Linked DNA regions of Homo sapiens. The protein of the gene in region 1 binds, or shares a complex with, the protein of each later gene. Each region holds a gene or a part of one and is shown in the gene's direction. Other genes may lie near its edges.

Region 1 (3,752 bases):
ATGAGAAACTTTACGAAATTGCTGTTTGAAATACACATTAGCACACACTTAGAATTGTTAAAATGCTAAATGAAATCTGCTACTCGAGAAGTTCTATATTATTTTGCTTAAATGATGTACCATATGCAATAATTAGTTTCTGTGAAAAATAGGGCAGGAAGCATAAAAGTTTCTTTTTCCTAGTGTTTCACCTATAAATTCTTAGGTCTTTTTGATTAACTAATACTATTCATTTTTTAAAACCAGTTTTGGATCTTGTGATTTTTCTTGGTCATGATTCTCTTTCTATTTTTTGTATGATGTTATTTCAGTTCTGTTGCATTTTCAATTTTGTTATTTTTGTAAGGTCCTCACATCTTTTATAGAATCAAGTATGATAAATGTTCACTCATGCATATAGATATATTCGTGTGCATATGTATAAATCCTTTATTTTTAAAAATTACAATAATACATGCTCATTGTAAAATATTCTGAGTATAGGAGTAGAAAATAAGTGTGTATTATGTGGTTTCAATTTCTGGTCTTTAGAGATAAATGTTCTCTGAATTTCTTACAACTTTATTATTATTGATACTATATTTATATTGCATATGGCCAATATCTTTCTTGCAAAGATAAAAAAATTATCTTCTATATTCTACTTATGTCTGAATAACCTCAATATATAGAAGCAGCATAGGAACTGTTTTTTGTTAATTTATTTCAAAACATTTTTTTGTTTTTGAACTTAGAATTCTAGTTTTAAAAATACTTTATTCAAGATCTTAGTATTTACCCATGGAAACTAACTGGAAATTTAAATAATGTAAAATTCTAGTATGTTTGTTTGATCTTGTTAATTTTCTTCCTTGCTAGTAAGCCTGATACTGTGATTGCAAATGGAGAAGATACGACATCTTCTGAAGAGGAAAAGGAAGATCGTAACACAAATGTGAATGCGATGCATCAAGTAACAGACTCTCATACTCCTTGTCATAAGGATGTTGCAAGTTCAGAACCATTCAGTGGTCAAGTGAATAGTCAGTTGAACTGTTCAGTGAATGGTTCCAGTTCTTACCACAGTGATGATGATGATGATGATGATGATGACGACGACGACGACAACATTGACGACGATGATGGTGATAACGACCATGAGGCTTTAGGGGTTGGAGATAATTCTATACCAACAATATATTTTTCACATACTGTTGAGCCTAAGAGGGTTTGTATACTTTTAACTTTACTAATTTTGCATATAATTTGAACATTAAGCATTATGATATTTTTTAGAAGAGCAATATTAACAATCATTATCATTGTGGATAGTGCCAGACAGGAAAATCATCTTTTGCCTCTTGTTCTGACCAATTTAAGAAGAAAAAGGGAAAAAAAATTTAGTTAGCTGGTATTGGTCCATTGTTCTCTGAAACAATGCATTGTTTGGGGTCTGGAAGGGGATCAGATTTGAGTGGCAACTACTGTAACTTCACCTGTCCTTCATTCAGAGAGTTTTCTTAAGAATCCTGGAGTTAATTATATTGTGGACATTTTGGTGTGCTTAGGATGTTGAAAGTGACTGCATTAGTTAAATTTTTAATTATGCCAGGTTGTTTTCTATGGACATAAAATGAATACTTCATAGGCACAAAGGGAAAATGTAGGAGGAAGTAAAAATTAGTTTCTTTTCTGACAAAGTAAATATAAACATCTGTGGATAATCATGACTTAGAATTTTGGCATTTTAGAGCTGGGGGTGACTGGAGATTTTCTAATACAGAGTTTTAAAGCTTTTCTCTAGTATGAAAAGCCTTTTGTTCCCTCCATACTTACTGTAGAATCCCAGTATTTAAAATAGATCAAAGCAGCTTGGCTCTGATTGAAGGAAGGATAGGCTGCCTTAAGTCCATCTTTGCCCTCTCTCTGCTCCATGTACTGCTCTAAGGGGACACTGGGAATTCGTCTAATTCGTCTTTCTCAGGGAAATTTAAGGCCTAGAAGACATAGATCTGGTTGGTAACAAAACAGGAACTCTTTCGCCTCTGAGTGCCCTTTCTACACAATATCCCGATTGCCTGTATCAGTTAAGGGTCTGTGGTATCATTCTTAAGTGTGTGTGATTATTATTTAGTGAAATATGTTTAAAACATATTTGATATTTCTTAGCTTCCTAAAGTTATTCCTGCTCCTATATGAAGTGAAATAATTGTTTGTGTTTTTATATTCTAATATGTCAGACTGAAGGGGTCTTCCCCTGATTCTTCGGGAAAAGTTGACTGAGATGATTAGCCAGAAAAAAAGGTCGCTTTTTAATCTTTTGCCAGGCTTTTACTTTTTTCCTGTTTTCATTTAGATAAAACAGAAAGAACAAATATTATTTGCAGGAACGTTACAGGTAATAGTGGTCATTATTGTGGAAAGTATGCTCTAAGTGCTGACTAGGGATAGAAAAATAACATGTTAACCCCATGTGAACCCTGAACAGGCTTGGTTTTTATTTTTTTACTCCTTCAATTTCTAAAAATTAGAGATGTTTTAAAAATTCTAAATAGGCATTATTTAATAGTACTTTTATGACTTAAAGGTTGTATTCTTACTGAATTTTTGTTTATACTCTTTCTTTTGAAATACATAATTCAAGCCAAACACTTATATCAAAGGAATGGGGTGATGGGAAGTTTATAAGAAATCTAGCATTTAGTTCAAATGTATTTTGCTTTCTCTACAATAATAAAGACACTGAAGACTAGGATTTGTTAATAAAGAAGATTTTCTTTAGATGTCATAGATCTATGAGATAAGGACTTTTTAAAAAATTCCATCTGATAATGCACATCATTTCAGCATCAGAAAATTTCAGCTGCCTCTCTTACTATTATTTTTTTAGTTATAGAGTTTATTTGTTTTGGTTTCACTTTGATTTAATTTGTCAAAAGATTCTTAATTTCTTGCTCTGAAATTTTAGGTCCGAATAAATACTGGAAAGAATACCACTTTAAAATTCAGTGAAAAGAAAGAAGAAGCCAAACGTAAACGAAAGAACAGCACTGGCAGTGGCCACTCTGCCCAGGAGCTGCCGACCATCAGGACGCCTGCAGACATTTACAGGTGGGAGGCGCTCACAGCTGCAGGGCAGTCTGCTGGGCTTGCCTCTCTTTCTGCCACTGAACCTTTACTGGAGAAAGTTGACTGTAACACAGAAGACCCTCACTGAAAAGTGAAGTGTTCTGAGGAGTTAACTTAGGATCTGATAGGCTGACCGGCTGTAGCTTCCCAGTCCAGAGCAGTGGGAATGGAGGATTTTTTTTTTTTTTCACTTTCTCCTCTTCACCAGTGCTTTTGAAACATTTCCAAATGGTCTAGTCAGAAAATCTTGTATCTTCAGAAAGCATTTTTGTTTCCAGTGGGCTAGGTCCCTACGTTTCTACCACAGCCGTAACATGCTTGGCATGCAGTTTACCTTTTCAGAGTAGAAATTATACTGTTGCAGGTTTTTTTTTTTTTTCCTTTTTTTTGGAATTGTTTGTTGAGAAAACTATCACTTGAAAATACCTACTGTTTTTATGACCCTTATTTATAAATCAGTGAAAATTGCTAAATGTATACGTGGGTCTAAAACTTTATGTAGAATTTTGGCAAACCATGCTATTGCCACCTAGGACATGCTTAAAAATAACATGCTGTGTTTTTGTTCTCACTCATAGGTGGGAATTGAACAATGAGAACACTTGGACACAGGGTGGGGAACACCACACACCGGGGTCTGTCAT
Region 2 (3,752 bases), on another chromosome or scaffold:
ACCTCCTGGGAGCCCTTGACCTGAGAAGAGTGCTGGGCTGGGAGTCAGAAGTCAGGAACTGTGTTGCTCCATCACTGACCAGCTTGGTTAATTTGTCACTTTGGGTCTCTGGGTTTTCTGTGGTTTGGGGTTCGGTTTTGAGTTCCCTCCTACTTGGCAAGGCAGTTTTGAGGACCAGACAGGAAACATTTGCTGCCTTTAGCTATTCAGCATTTAGTGAGCCCTTCTGTGTCTCAGGGCCTGGTAACCAACAGGTGATCACTAAATGCTGAATAAATGACCAAACACCAGCCTCTTCCTCTTGCTGACTGCACTGTTAGGAGCCCGCAGGAGGATGCAGGTGAGTGGTGAACCTGTTATGGAGTCAGCCATGATCAGCTCCAAGTTAAGTAAGGACTAGGCTGATGCAAGCCTGTGGTCAAATCTAGTGAGAGGAGGCACAGCAATATAATCATGGTATATTTATACTTGCTCTTTATACTTACTCTTATAGTCCATGTGTCCCCAAAGGCACAGGAACATTTGGAGGAAGTCCTGAGTCCGGTTAGGGTCAGATGCGCCCTAGAGGGCATTTGACGTGAACTTTAATGACTGGGAACTTCTAGGAAGGAGAATGGCATTCCTGGCAGATGGAATAGACTCAAAAGCATTGAGTCATAAAAAAGCTTGGGGGTGTCCAGGGCAGGGCTGGTAGTCTTGTGTGGCTAATCAAGGAACAAGGGGTTGGAAAAAGATAGGGCTGGAAAAGGAGGCTGGGCAGGCCCCACGGAGCTTATACTTGCCATGAAAGGATTTTGTTTGATTCTTACAGGTTAGGGGAACCTCTAAAAATTCCTCTGTGTTTAGAAGCTCCTCAGGCTTTGAGGAGGGGTCTCCATACCTCAGGATCCCATGTTGAGTTGATGAGTGGGATGCAGGGGGATGAGGCTTCTGTAGTCACCTTAGAAAGCAGCACTGACTCTAAGTCTTCTCTTATGCAGGGGGGACAAGATATCCTGTCCATGATGGGCCAGCTAATGAAGCCAAAGAAGACAGAAATCACAGGTAGGAGAACCAGTGTGCCCTGTGAGCAAGGGGCAGGGCGGAGGGCCCCACATTCTGAGATGCTCTTGCGGCTCTGTGAGCACAGTCGCCCTGAGGAAATGCCTCAGAACAGTTCTTTCTTCCTCATAGCTTAGAGCTTGACTCTAGCCTAAGTTTCTGGCGGCATTTAGGCAGCCATATAGCACACTGTGTGCTATCTGCCCCACTGCAGTCACAGTTTCTGGCCCCTATGAGGCCCCAGAAATAGGGATTTGTGTCGCCCAGCTCTGCTGGAGCACAGGCTCTGGAGCCTTGGGGCTGTCAGCCCCCTCCCTAGTAGAGCACAGGGCAGCTCCACAGACCAGCTCCACATACTGCCCTGCCCAGTTTGTGGGCACTTCCCAGAGCTCCACAGGGGACACTGCTGCTGCTCCCCTGTGAACCTTTATTTAACCTGCTGCTCTTCCCAGCTTTCCTGTTGCTGTTTTTTTTCTAATTCCACCTACAGTTTCGTCACCTTAAGATGTTAGTTAAACATTAAAGCAAATATTGTCTTTAAAGTTTAAGCCAGGGCAGCAATCTGAGACCTTTCTGTTCGAGTTGTCAGAAGCAGTTTCTTTCTTTTCACACGGTTTTCGGTGTGCATCCTCTTTGGACAATCCCCGCCTCTTGCCTTTGGTGGAAGACGCTGCCTCAGATCTTCCAGTTTTCTATTTGTGAGCTGCTCCCTCCTGATGATAACACAGGAGCTGGTTTGGAAAATGAGCACTGAGACCTTAGCTGGGTTATGTAACTTTTGAGAGACTCATCCCTCTAGGAGCTCTGAGATTGGGCCTTTCTTCAGAGCCTTTCATTCCTCAAAGGTTTCTGCTCAGGATTCTAAAAGCACCCACTTCCTTAGTCCAGGCACTTGATTGAAAGTTAATTAACCTAAGCATTGTTGTATGGGACCAAAAGAAAGGGTCATTTACTGAGTATAGAACAGGTAAATTTGCATGTGAAAACTCATTTCACCCAGGGCTCCCAAACTCCAATGTCTCCCAGATCAGACAGAGCTAGATTGGGTATGTGGGAAGTGATAAGGCATGGTAGGGAGTGTGACAGCAGTGAGCGTGTGCTGTGAAGGGATTCCCATGCAGAACACCTGTGCAACCTTTTTACATTTAACCAAACTCATCTTTTGGGGGAGGCTGCCAATTTTGTGACCTTTTAGGTGTGATTATCACTGTGTTCAGATGACGACACTGAAACCTGGAGTGGGGACACACCCTGTCTGGGATCACATAGCTAGTAGGAAAACTAGGCTCCTAGCATGGGTTTGGATTGAATTCAGGTGGAGGAGAAAAGGCGATAGTCTCCCCCAGCCCTGTGCTGACCTTGCCTGCCCATCCTTGCATCTCCTAGACAAACTTCGAGGGGAGATTAATAAGGTGGTGAACAAGTACATCGACCAGGGCATTGCTGAGCTGGTCCCGGGTGTGCTGTTTGTTGATGAGGTCCACATGCTGGACATTGAGTGCTTCACCTACCTGCACCGCGCCCTGGAGTCTTCTATCGCTCCCATCGTCATCTTTGCATCCAACCGAGGCAACTGTGTCATCAGGTAGGATGGCTGCCTGCCAGCCACAAGGCTTTTTTAACTTCCATCTGGGCTCATTTGTTCCTCAGGATCTCTCCAAACCCCATGAGGTGGGACAGGGATGAGGGGAGGTCATGTTGTTTTTGAGGGAAAATGTGCCAAGTGGCTTGCCTCTGGCCTCATTTCCCTAGTCACCAAAGGCAGCAGCTGTCCTGTCACTCATGAGGAGGGTCTCCCACGTGATCTTTTGGGTGTGATACTACAATTTGGTCGTTCAATTGGAGTGTACAAAGGTGAGATCAGACAGGGCTAGCCTTTGATGACATTATACACATGAACGTCTTCAGTCTTCATCTGCGCTCTGAGAGGTAGGCATTATTGGCGTCATTTTTCAAATAAGGAAACTGGAATCATAACTTGTCCCTCATCGTAAAGACAGGATAAGAACCCAGCTCCTTCTGATAACAAAACCAGCATTTTCTTTCTTTTTTTTTTTGGGGACAGAGTCTCACTGTGTCGCCCAGGCTGGAGTGCAGTGGCGCGATCTCGGCTCACTGCAAGCTCCACCTCCCGGGTTCACACCATTCTCCTGCCTCAGCCTCCCGAGTAGCTGGGACTACAGTTGCCCACCACCACGCCTGGCTAATTTTTTTGTATTTTTAGTAGAGACAGGGTTTCACCGTGTTAGCCAAGATGGTCTTGATCTCCTGACCTCGTGATCTGCCCGCCTCAGCCTCCCAAAGTGCTGGGATTACAGGCATGAACCACCACGCCCGGCCCCAGCATTTTCTTTCTATCCCAGACCTCTGAACCACACTGGTGTCTTTCCATCCTCCCGCTCCACTCTTTCCCATCCCTTTGGCCTGCCTTTGGGAAGGGCAGATGTTGACCCCTGGAAGACAAGTGTTCATACGGTGCTCATCCTGCCAAGATTGGCCCAAAGCTGGGCCAGGAACTTTCCTGCGGTTGCTTTTTCTCCTAAGCACTCTCCACGCTCGTGGTCCTGGAGAACACCCCATCTTCCCATCTCTCAAGCCCAGTGTCAGTATTCCCAGTACCTGGTAGTTTTATTGCTCTTTTGGTTTTCTGTGATCTTGTTTAAACATTAGTGCCTGGTCTCTGCAGTGCTGGGGGCACAAAGGTGGGTGAT
Region 3 (3,752 bases), on another chromosome or scaffold:
GAGTGGTACAGAGAATATGAGTTCAAGAGCTCTTTGCAGTATTCCAGGGAAGACCTAAGTTACAAGCACTGAGAAGGGAGCAGAGTGGATGATTCAGAAGATAATATTATGCAGAATACATAGAATTTGGGAATGTTTTTGGATATGAAGAACAAAGAAAAGGATAATGTCCAAGATGACTGAGTTTTCAGGCTGATTGTGGGGTGAATGATGGTATTAATTGAAAAAATTATACAAGGGGTGGGATAATTTGTAAAGGAAAATGGTAAGGTCATTTTGGGACATCATGAGTTTAAGATGATGGTGTACCATCTAGGTGGGGCCCACAGTGGAAATGCAGGGCTGGAGTTTATGAGAAAAACGAAGTTAGGGGCAATGAAAGCATTGGGATAGGATGCCCAGATAGCATAGCACAGTGACAGGGGCCTCCTTCTCACTTAACACTCTTTCCTCAGCAAGAGATACTTGGAAAAAAATCCTTGAATTAATTCCAGGAGGATGAGTTTAACCACAGATTATAAACTTACTTCAGGTATGATCATCCACACTACTAAAAATATGTCACAGTGTGCTACAACTTATTTCAGATTTCCTTGTAAAGATGGAATCACACCAGAGCAACATTTTTCAAGATAAATTAGTTTTAAAGTTTCTGTTTGCATTCAAATATAGTTACTGCCAAGAAAGCAATAGAGGTATAACTGTATTTATTCTCTGAGACCCCTTTGTGTTTGAGCTGTAGTTGGCCTGCTAGCCTTTGCAGATATAGTAGAAAGCATTTTCTTTTCTTTTTTTTTTTTTGAGACAGAGTCTCGCTTTGTTGCCCAGGCTGGAGTGCATTGGCGCGATCTTGGTTCACTGCAAGCTCTGCCTCCCAGGTTCATGCCATTCTCCTGCCTCAGCCTCCCGAGTAGCTGGGACTACAGGCGCCTGCCACCACACCCGGCTAATTTTTTGTATTTTTTTCTTTTTTTTTTTTTTTTAGTAGAGACAGGGTTTCACTGTGTTAGCCAGGATGGTCTCGATCTCCTATAAAGCATTTTATTTAAATTGAATTCAATAAACACTTTCACATATCCTTTCAGTATGGAATTACAGTGAATGAGCTTATATTAGTTAGTCTGCTTTGCATTGAATTGCTTTATTGCTATAAAGGAATACCTGAGACTGGGTAGTTTATAAAGAAAAGAGTTTTATTTGGCTCATGATTCTGCAAGAGTATCCAAGAAGCATGGTGCCAGTATCTGCTCCTGGTGAGACCTCAGGAATTGTCTGCTCATGGCAGAAGGCAAAAGGGGAGCAGGCATGTCACATGGCGAGAGAGGGAGCAAGAGAGAGGGGAGGAGGGAGGTGCCAGACTCTTTAACAACCAGACCTCACATGAACTAGAAGAGCGAAAACTCATTACCATAAGGACTGCACTGAGCCATTCACGAGGGATCCAGCCCCATGACCCAGCACCTCCCATCAGGCCCCACCTCCGACATTGGGGATCATACGTCAACATCAGATTTGGGGGGACAAATATCCAAACTCTTATCAGAAATTTAAACAAAACAAAAAACTAATGGATACCACATTAATAATCTTGATGTCCTCTCAGGATTGGTAAGATGGGATACTACCCAGTGTGATTTTTAAGATCTGATTTAATATAAGTTTTATGTTAGTTTCATAAGACTTTTTTAAAGCAGCCTTTATAAGGATGCATTTATAAGGATGTGAAATGTTGTATCTTGATTTCCAGGCAATGCTTATAATCAAGAAGAACGTGTTGTTTGTGCTGGCTATGACAATGGGGATATCAAACTATTTGATCTCAGAAATATGGCATTACGGTGGGAGACAAACATCAAAAATGGGGTAAAGTACATTCTGAGGCTTTTTGGTTTCTCTGAGCATGTTTCCATTCACCTCTGAACTATTACAAAAGGAAAACACCTCTAGTAACTCATCTGAGTCAACCCCTCTGCCAACGGTTCTTAACTTTTTGAGGCCAAATCCGTTTGAGAATCTAATGAAAATCCTGGATCCTCTCTTCAGAAAATGAGCTCACACCCACATGTGGTTTGCACAGCGTTGGGGGAGTCACCAGCCCCTTCAGCCTGTCTGCAGACCCCTGTGGGCCATGTAGTAAGATTTCAAAATAAGCAAGTAAAAGGTCTTTTTATGCCAATATCAGAAAGCCTGAAACAGTAGTCACCTCCCCAGCTCAGATTTTTGGTTCCTTAGTTGTGCACCTTTAGCAAAGAATGTGGTTTCCTCCTGTTTTCTACTGTTAGCCTTTACTTAACTGTTAAATAATGTAAAAAGTTAAATAATGATTCCCCAAAGGCATTCACTGAGCATGGGAACCCAAGATTGTTTTGTTGATCTTACTAATGGAAAAAAAAAATGGGTTTTTTGTTTGTTTGTTTGTTTGTTTGTTTTGAGATGGAGTCTTGCTCTGTCGCCCAGGCTGGAGTGCAGTGGCGCGATGTTGGCTCACTGCAAGCTCTGCCTCCCAGGTTCATGCCATTCTCCTGCCTCAGCCTCCCGAGTAACTGGGACTACAGGCGCCTGTCACCATGCCCGGCTAATTTTTCATATTTTTTAGTAGAGACGGGGTTTCATCGTGTTAGCCAGGATGGTCTCAATCTCCTGACCTCATGATCTGCCTGCCTTGGCCTCCCAAAGTGCTGGGATTACAGGCGTGAGCCACTGTGCCTGGCCAAAAAAAAAAAAAATGTTTTTTTTTTGAGACAGAGTCTCACTCTGTCGCCCAGGATGGAGTGCAGTGGCATGATCTTAGCTCACTGCAACCTCTGCCTCCCGGGTTCAAGCAATTCTCCTGCCTCAGCCTCCCAAGTAGCTGGGACTACAGGCGCACGCCACCACGCCTGGCTAATTTTTGTATTTTTAGTAGAGACAGGGTTTCACCATGTAGGTCAGGCTGGTCTTGATCTCCTGACTTCGTGATCCACCTGCCTTGGCCTCCCAAAGTGCTGGGATTACAGGCATAAGCCACCGCGCCTGGCTGGAAAAAAATTTTTATGGGAAAAGTTAAAAGATAAATGATTGTTGGAGTGCTTTCACATTATCTGACCATTTTAAAGCTGTTTTACTTAGTATAAAAGAGCCTCCTGAGTAATACTGGTGAGACTACCAATAATAAGTATTCTCTGTTTTCAGGTGTGTAGCTTGGAGTTTGACAGAAAAGACATAAGTATGAATAAGTTAGTAGCCACATCTCTGGAAGGAAAGTTCCATGTTTTTGACATGAGAACACAGCATCCAACCAAAGGTTTTGCCTCTGTTTCAGAAAAGGTAAATATGAGGGAAATGTCTTTCTATGAAGAAGAATGATAGCTTGGTTTAGACTGATAAGTAGAATTAGTCACCAAGGTTTCTTCCAGGTCTTTATGTGAAGGGAGCTATTTTTGATATATTCCTGTGAGATCTTGACAAGTTTTTCTGTGCAAAGAGTACTTCCCCAAAGTTTATCAACTTTAGACTTCTTGATTATAATAAAGATCTCAGGTAGGAATCTTATTTTGTAGTTTAGGAGCAATTAGAAGAAACCTAGCTGATATTAGGAATTTGATCAACAAAACCCAGCCTGGTGTTTCCTAATAAGTATATAATATTTGTGCTAATACCTGGTTATATATTTTTCAAAATAAACTATATGTACATGATGTCATTTCATTACACTTTGTTTTATATTCCAGTTTGCTATATTAAATGAAATTATTTGAATCACTGAGTACTGT

The links.
Region 2: URI1 (region 1) and RUVBL1 share a complex: the UniProt entries of both Homo sapiens proteins name them as parts of the PAQosome complex.
Region 3: URI1 (region 1) and DNAAF10 share a complex: the UniProt entries of both Homo sapiens proteins name them as parts of the PAQosome complex.

The regions. Positions count from the first base shown.
Region 1 is NC_000019.10:30,008,147-30,011,898, forward strand, and holds part of URI1 (unconventional prefoldin RPB5 interactor 1), read left to right. Parts: intron 1-858; coding exon 859-1,207; intron 1,208-2,947; coding exon 2,948-3,090; intron 3,091-3,752. UniProt on the Homo sapiens protein: Involved in gene transcription regulation. Acts as a transcriptional repressor in concert with the corepressor UXT to regulate androgen receptor (AR) transcription.
Region 2 is NC_000003.12:128,096,174-128,099,925, reverse strand, and holds part of RUVBL1 (ruvB-like 1), read left to right. Parts: intron 1-980; coding exon 981-1,044; intron 1,045-2,427; coding exon 2,428-2,626; intron 2,627-3,752. UniProt on the Homo sapiens protein: Possesses single-stranded DNA-stimulated ATPase and ATP-dependent DNA helicase (3' to 5') activity; hexamerization is thought to be critical for ATP hydrolysis and adjacent subunits in the ring-like structure contribute to the ATPase activity.
Region 3 is NC_000002.12:68,136,853-68,140,604, reverse strand, and holds part of DNAAF10 (dynein axonemal assembly factor 10), read left to right. Parts: intron 1-1,747; coding exon 1,748-1,863; intron 1,864-3,171; coding exon 3,172-3,306; intron 3,307-3,752. UniProt on the Homo sapiens protein: Key assembly factor specifically required for the stability of axonemal dynein heavy chains in cytoplasm.